Linked DNA regions of Homo sapiens. The protein of the gene in region 2 purifies or fractionates together with the protein of the main gene of each other region. This does not show direct contact. Each region holds a gene or a part of one and is shown on either strand. Other genes may lie near its edges.

Region 1 (3,500 bases), on a different chromosome or scaffold from region 2:
ATTAGTCGACCATTTCTGGTTTCTCAGTTCTATTCCATTGAACTAGATGTCTTTGCTTACAACATCTTGATTACTGTAGCTTTCTTTTTTTAAAGTTAAAAAATTTATAAAGTAGAAGTGGGGCTCAGGCTCGTCTGGTGGCCTAGGCTCGTCTGGACCCCTGGCTGCAAGTGATCCTCCCGCCTCAGCCTCCCAAAGTGCTGGGATTACAGGCGTGAGCCTCTGGGGCCTGGCCACAATTGAGTTTTGTTTATTGATCTCGTATCCTGCAACTTTGCTATGAGTTCTAACCTTGTCTTAGTCCTAATAGTTGTTTAATGGATTCCTTAGGGTTTTCTATATACAAGGTCATGTCATCTGCAAATAGAAATAGTTGTACTTCTTCCTTTCCAATGTGGATGCCTTTTATTTCATCTTATTGCCTCATTGCCCTGGCGAGAGCCTCCAGAACAATGTTGACTAGAAATGACAAGGGCCCATGCTCATCTTGTTCCTGACTTAGGGGAAAGCTTTTAATCTTTCGCCTTTAAGTCTGATGTTCGTTGTGGGTTTTTCATAGATGCCCTTCATCAGGTTGAGGAGGTTACCCTCTATTCCTAGTTTGTATGTTATTATACTTTTAAATAGCAGCAGCAGAGCATGTAAGAAGATATGAATAAATACATGGCGAGAGGTTCGCAGTTGATTAAGTGGGGGGAAGAGTTTACTCCATTCATCGTGAATCTGATCTCTGTGAGTAGGAGGATGTGTTAGTTGAACAACTTTAAAAAAAAAAAAAAAAAAGAGGGCGAGGTGGGTGGATCACGAGGTCAGGAGTTTGAGACCAGCCTGGCCAAGATGGTGAAACCCCGTCTCTACTAAAAATACAAAAAATTAGCCAGGCAAGGTGGCGGGTGCCTGTAATCCCAGCTACTCTGGAGGCTGAGGCAGGTGAATCGCTTGAACCCAGGATGCCGAGGTTGCAGTGAGCAGAGATCGCACCGCTGCACTCTAGCCTGGGCGACAGAGCAAGACTCTATCTCAAAAAATAAATAAATAAAAAATAAAAATAGAGACAGGGTCTTGCTGTATTGTCCAGGCTGATCTCGAGCTCCTGGACTCAAACCATCCTCCTACCTTCGCCTCCCAAAGTGCTGGGATTACAGGTGTTAGTCACTGCCCCCAGCTTGAACAAACTTTGTAAGATGCAGGCTATTGTGCAAAATTTTAGCACTGTAAAAAATATCCCCTTATTTTATCAAATATACCTTTATCTTGAGGCATATGTCTATTTTCACCTACTTGTAACTTACACTCTTGATTACTTTTGGTTGTCTTTTTACTCTTGTTCTAATTATCTTTTTTTTTTTTTTTTTTTGAGACGGAGTCTCACTCTGTCGCCAGGCTGGAGTGCAGTGGCGTGATCTCGGCGCACTGCAACCTCCATCTCCCGGGTTCAAGCAATTCTCCTGCCTCAGCTTCCTGAGTAGCTGGGACTACAGGTGCCCACCACCATGCCCAGCTAATTTTTGTATTTTTAGTAGAGACAAGGTTTCACCATGTTGGCCAGGATGGTCTTGATCTCTTGACCTCATGATCTGCCCTCCTCGGCCTCCCAAAGTGCTGGGATTACAGGCATGAGCCACCACGCCCGGCCCTAATTATCTTTTATTGTACAGAAGCATTTTATTTTCATCAGAGTACATTCATCTTGATTGAGATATTTTACAGTAGTTTCTCTCCCCATGCTGGCTGGGCGTGGTGGCTCACGCCTGTAATCCCAGCACTGTGGGAGACTGAAGCAAGCAGATCACCTGAGGTCAGGAGTTTGAGACCAGCCTGGCCAACATGGTGAAACCCCATCTCTACTAAAAATACAAAAATTAGCTGGACATGGTGGCACACACCTGTAATCTCAGCTACTCAGGAGGCTGAGGCAGGAGAATTGCTTGAACCTGGGAGGCAGAGATTGCAGTGAGCCAAGATCACACCACTGCACTCCAGCCTAGGTGACAGGGCAAGACTCCCGTCTCAAAAAAAAAAAAATTATCTTCCCACTATAGTAAGAAAGTAACAGCGTTTTATGACTTGGAAAGTGTCTTCATATAAAATCTTATTTGAATCTCCCAAAATATAGCAGAGATGATCCCCATTTTACAGATTAAAATATGGATACCAGAAATGTTTGAATCATTTGTCAGGATATTGGCAGCAGAGCAGGGGCTAAGGGCATGCTATCTTTTTAAGGCACTTCATATTAATTTTTGTATTTATATACAAAAATTATACACTCCTTGACTCCTTGACTTCGTCGAACATATGACATTCAAACATATCAATAGGGTGGAGGAGAATCCAAGGATAGCTTGCCACTGTATTCATTTCTTATGGCTGCCATAACAAGTTACTGCAAGCTGGGTGGCTTAAGACAAGAGAAATTTATTCCATCACAGTTCTAGGGGCCATAATTCCAAAATCAAGATGTCAGCTTGGTTCCAAAGACAAGGGATTGTTGCTTCTTGGAGGCTTAGACGGGGCCGTTACTCCGCGCATCTCTCCCGGCTGGATGGGTGGCTGCCGGCAGTCCTTGGCATCCCCTGGCTTGCAGCTGTCCAAGTCCAGTCGCTGCTTCTGTCTGCACCTGGCTGTGTGTCTGGATTAAGGGCACACCCTATTCCACTATGACTTCATCTTAGTGACATCTTAAATACTTCTCCAAAGACCCTAATTCCAAACAAGGTGACATTACAGGTACCATGGTTAGGACTACAATGTATCTTTTTATTATTACTATCTTTTAAAGGGATAGGGTGTCACACTGTCATGTAGGCTGGAGTGCAATGGCACGATCGTAGCTCATGCAGCCTCAACCCCCTAGGGCCTAGCGATCCACTCACCTTAGCTTCTCGAATAGCTGGGACTACAGATGTGTGCCACTATGCCGGGCTAAGTTTTTAATTTTTTTGTAAAGACGGGGTCTCCGTGTTGCCCAGGCTGGTCTTGAACTCCTGGCCTCAAGCAATCCTCCCGCCTTGGCCTCCCAAAGTGCTGGGATTACAGCATGAGCCTCCAGGCCTAATGTATCTTTTGAGGGGGCACAGTTCAGCCCACAGCAGCCACTAACAGAGTTCTCTTCTGTCCTCGCTCCCCCACCAGGTGCCCCTGTAGACAATGGCCCTCGTGTCTGCCGATTCCCGCATTGCAGAACTTCTCACAGAGCTCCATCAGCTGATCAAACAAACCCAGGTAAAAAGTCACCACCCTCCATTCCCAGATGGGAACATGGGCTTTGATGCTGAGCCGTGAAGTGGGGGTGGCATTTGTGTTCAGAGAGATTGGACTCGCAGGAACCAAAATGACGTAATAAAAGTGAAAGGAGGGGAATTTGGTGTATGGCTACCATTCCTGTTGGATTTTCTACCATGTACAGGATTTCATGATTCATTTTGTTTGACAGCTATCCTGAGATAGAATTCACATGCCATACAACGCACCCATTTAAAGTGTATAATCCAGTGGTT
Region 2 (3,500 bases):
AGGGGCGTTCTGCAAAAGAGCAGGCTTGGATTCTTCACCAAAAAACTCAATATCCTAAAAAGTAACAAAAAATGGGGGAAGGACCATTCTAGATTAAAAGAAGCCAAAGGACATAATATCTAAATGTGATGAGAGAATCCTGATTAAATCCTAGCTCTAAAAAAAGTATCAAAGACATTTTGGGGAGAACTGAGTAAATTTAAATGTGGACCAGATAAAGGATGCCATAGAATTTTTACTAATTTTCTTATTTGAACAATGGTACTGTATTAGGAGAACATCCTTATTCTTAGAAAATGCATGCTGGAGTTTTCCTTTCAAAGGGCTCAGCCAAAGAAAATATACAAGTGTGTGTTATAGACAGAGGTGTGTACACATCTACAGAGACAGCAGTGCTGCAATACAACAACAGGTGAACCTAGGTGAAGGATAAGTGGGCGTGTCTGTTACAGACAGGTGTGTACACATGTGTAAATAGAGACAGCAGTGCTGCAATACAACAACAGGCAAACCTAGGTGAAGGGGAAGTGGGCGTGTGTTTCAGAGAGAGGCGTGTACACATGTGTAAAGAGAGACAGCAGTGCTGCAATACAACAGGCGAACCTAGGTGACAGGGTAGTGCGTGTTGTGTGTTACAGACAGTGGTGTGTACACATGTGTAAAGAGAGACAGCAGTGCCGCAATACAACAGGTGAACCTAGGTGAAGGGTTAGTGGGCGTGTGTTTCAGAGAGAGGTGTGTACACATGTGTAAAGAGACAGCGGTGCTGCAATACAACAGGTGAACCTAGGTGAAGGGTTAGTGGGCGTGTGTTTCAGAGAGAGGTGTGTACACATGTGTAAAGAGACAGCAGTGCTGCAATACAACAGGCGAACCTAGGTGAAGGGTTTGTGGGTACACTGTACTACTCTGTTGGTTTTTATGTAGGCTTGAAACTTTTCTAAGCAAAAAGCTTAGGAAAGCACTGCAGGCGCAGGAGTGAGACCATCTTGCTCCTCCCGTCCTCTAGGCCTCCGACTGCCCTTCCAATGAATTCTCATGAGAAACAGCAGGGCAGTCATGCGGGCCCCTCTGCCCCGCCCTACACAGTGGTGCCAGGTGGTGGGCCCAGGTCCAGCCAGGGCTTTGCTGTGGGGCCCCTCTGCATCTGGTGGACGTCGGGGAGCACCACATCCAAGCTAACATGCATGGGAAGCAGCGCTCCCCGAGCTGCAGCATCTTCCTCACCAATGAGCTGGCCTGCAGCGGGGTCAGGCCCATGTGGCGGAGCTCATGGGGGCCCAGCTCAGCGCCTGCTGCACCCTGATGCAGCAACAACACAGTGCTGCGTTCAGCCACTGACCACCGGGAGGTCTGTATTACTATGGCTATCGCTGACGGAGCTGGCAGAATAAACGCTGACCTGATGTCAGGACGGAGCAGTTTAATGCGTGTGATGCCCCCAGAACAGACCCAGGCTGCCATAAAGATCTCTACGCATGGTCGTGACTGCTGCCTGCTCCCGTTCCAGCCTCAGAGTCAAGGAATTAGCTTTCCAATCTCAAGCTTCTTTTTAAAAACGTTGTCCTGGCCAGACGCGATGGCTCACACCTATAATCCCAGCACTTTGGTAGGCTGAGGCAGGCGGATCACCTGAGGTTAGGAGTTCAAGACCAGCCCAACCAACATGGTGAAACCCCACCTCTACTAAAAATACAAAAATTAACCAGGCATGGTGGTGGGCGCCTGTAATCCCAGCTACTAGGGAGGCTGAGGCAGGAGAATCGCTTGAACCCGGGAGGCAGAGGCTGCAGTGAGCCGAGATCATACCACTGCACTCCAGCCCGGGCGACAGAAAGAGACTCCGTCTATTAACAAACAAACAAACAAACAAAAAGTCCTATTTTCCTTTCCAACATCTTACTAACATTTTGAACATTAAATCTAAAACTTAGTAACTAACGTTAAACATATAAAACAGATTTTCATATTTGGAGTTCATTTATAAACCTTTCAATGCACACTGCTTATCCAGACGTCGGGGTGGAGAGCAGCACTGGTGGGAGGTAGGGGGAGCATGGAGGAGCGAGGAGCGGCCGGGAAGATCCCACAGGCATGGCTGGCAGGAGACTTGCCAGTGGACCACAGTGGGGCATGATGGGGGAACGGGGAACAGAGATTAAAAGAGAAGAACCAGGGAACACTCTAGGTAGACAGCCCCCGTGACTGGGCAGACGGTCTCATCATTGACTGAGCAGGGCCAGACTGGGGGAAGGAGACGGTCACGGAAAGAACTGAAGAGTTCTGTTAAGACCTTACACGGCTGGGCGCGGTGGCTCACGCCTGTAATCCCAGCACTTTGGGAGGCCGAGACAGGCGGATCACGACGTCAGGAGATCGAGACCATCCTGGCTATCACGGTGAAACCCCATCTCTACTAAAAATACAAAAAACTAGCCAGGCGTGGTGGCAGGTGCCTCTAGTCCCAGCTACTCGGGAGGCTGAGGCAGGAGAATGGCGTGAACCCGGGAGGCGGAGCTTGCAGTGAGCCGAGATAGCGCCACTGCACTCCAGCCTGGGCGACAGAGCGAGACTCCGTCTCAGAAAAAAAAGACCTTACACTTGAGTTGCCGGAGAGAAACCCAAGCAGAGAGGGACACACTGGATTGAGGGTCTATGTCTGTGTTTGCGCGTCTATGTGTATACCTTCTCCCAGAATATACCACGCAGACACGTGTAATAACAAAAACTAGATGGAAAAGATCCAGGAGACACCCCGTGGGTAGGAGTAACAGCTCCCGCGGCTCCTATGGTGGCGTGGCCGGCCCCTGTGCTCAGCTACAGGCTCTGGCAGCCCTGCTCTTCTCTAACCCTCTCCACCCACTCCCCCATTCTGTCTGCATTAAACTTCTTGAGAGAACTTCGGAGGGTGCCTTCTCTTAATCTCCTACATCCTTTGAAATAGCCAAAATGGAGCTAAATGTTTAGAAAAAGAATAGCAGAATTTGAAAGGTAGTTATTTTTTTGAAAGATAGTAGAGTCGGAAATACTGAAAATTAAGGCTAGAATTAAGTTTTCATGTCAACCCACAGAACTTTTTCATGACTAAGGACAGATGTCTAAACTACCGCAACTCACTCCGTGTGTCCCTGGAAAACATTCACCGAGTGGATGGAGGGGTCCCTGAAATCCCAGAGGCGGAAAGTCGTGTCACGGGAGGAGGTCACCACGAGCCGCTGGGTGGGGTGTGTGCAGCAGTGCGTCAACTCCTGGTCGTGCCCTGTAACCAAGATGGCAAAACACAAGGTCATCACCTGAGGAGCACGCTGAGAGAGACGCTTTTCAACAGCACAAGAACCCAAGAAGCCGTCTCTCTGAGACTGTGAACCTGACCTAATGGAATCACTCAGCAGCATGTGGGTCACAGTGGGGCAGGTTTTCCCTCAGAAGCTGAAGTCCTTTCAGCCGTCCATGTCAAAGGAACAGAAAACCAAACAGGTGCATAACCCATTTTCTGACCC

Evidence for each region. The genes of interacting proteins can lie anywhere in the genome.
Region 1: the proteins of WDR37 (region 2) and SGF29 purify together in Homo sapiens (affinity purification with mass spectrometry; 5 studies listed by BioGRID and IntAct, with this or other methods). This does not show direct contact.

Annotation. Positions count from the first base shown.
Region 1 is NC_000016.10:28,577,920-28,581,419, forward strand, and holds part of SGF29 (SAGA-associated factor 29), read left to right. Parts: intron 1-3,135; 5' UTR 3,136-3,150; coding exon 3,151-3,225; intron 3,226-3,500. UniProt on the Homo sapiens protein: Chromatin reader component of some histone acetyltransferase (HAT) SAGA-type complexes like the TFTC-HAT, ATAC or STAGA complexes.
Region 2 is NC_000010.11:1,104,885-1,108,384, reverse strand, and holds part of WDR37 (WD repeat-containing protein 37), read right to left. Parts: intron 3,260-3,500; coding exon 3,118-3,259; intron 1-3,117. UniProt on the Homo sapiens protein: Required for normal ER Ca2+ handling in lymphocytes. Together with PACS1, it plays an essential role in stabilizing peripheral lymphocyte populations.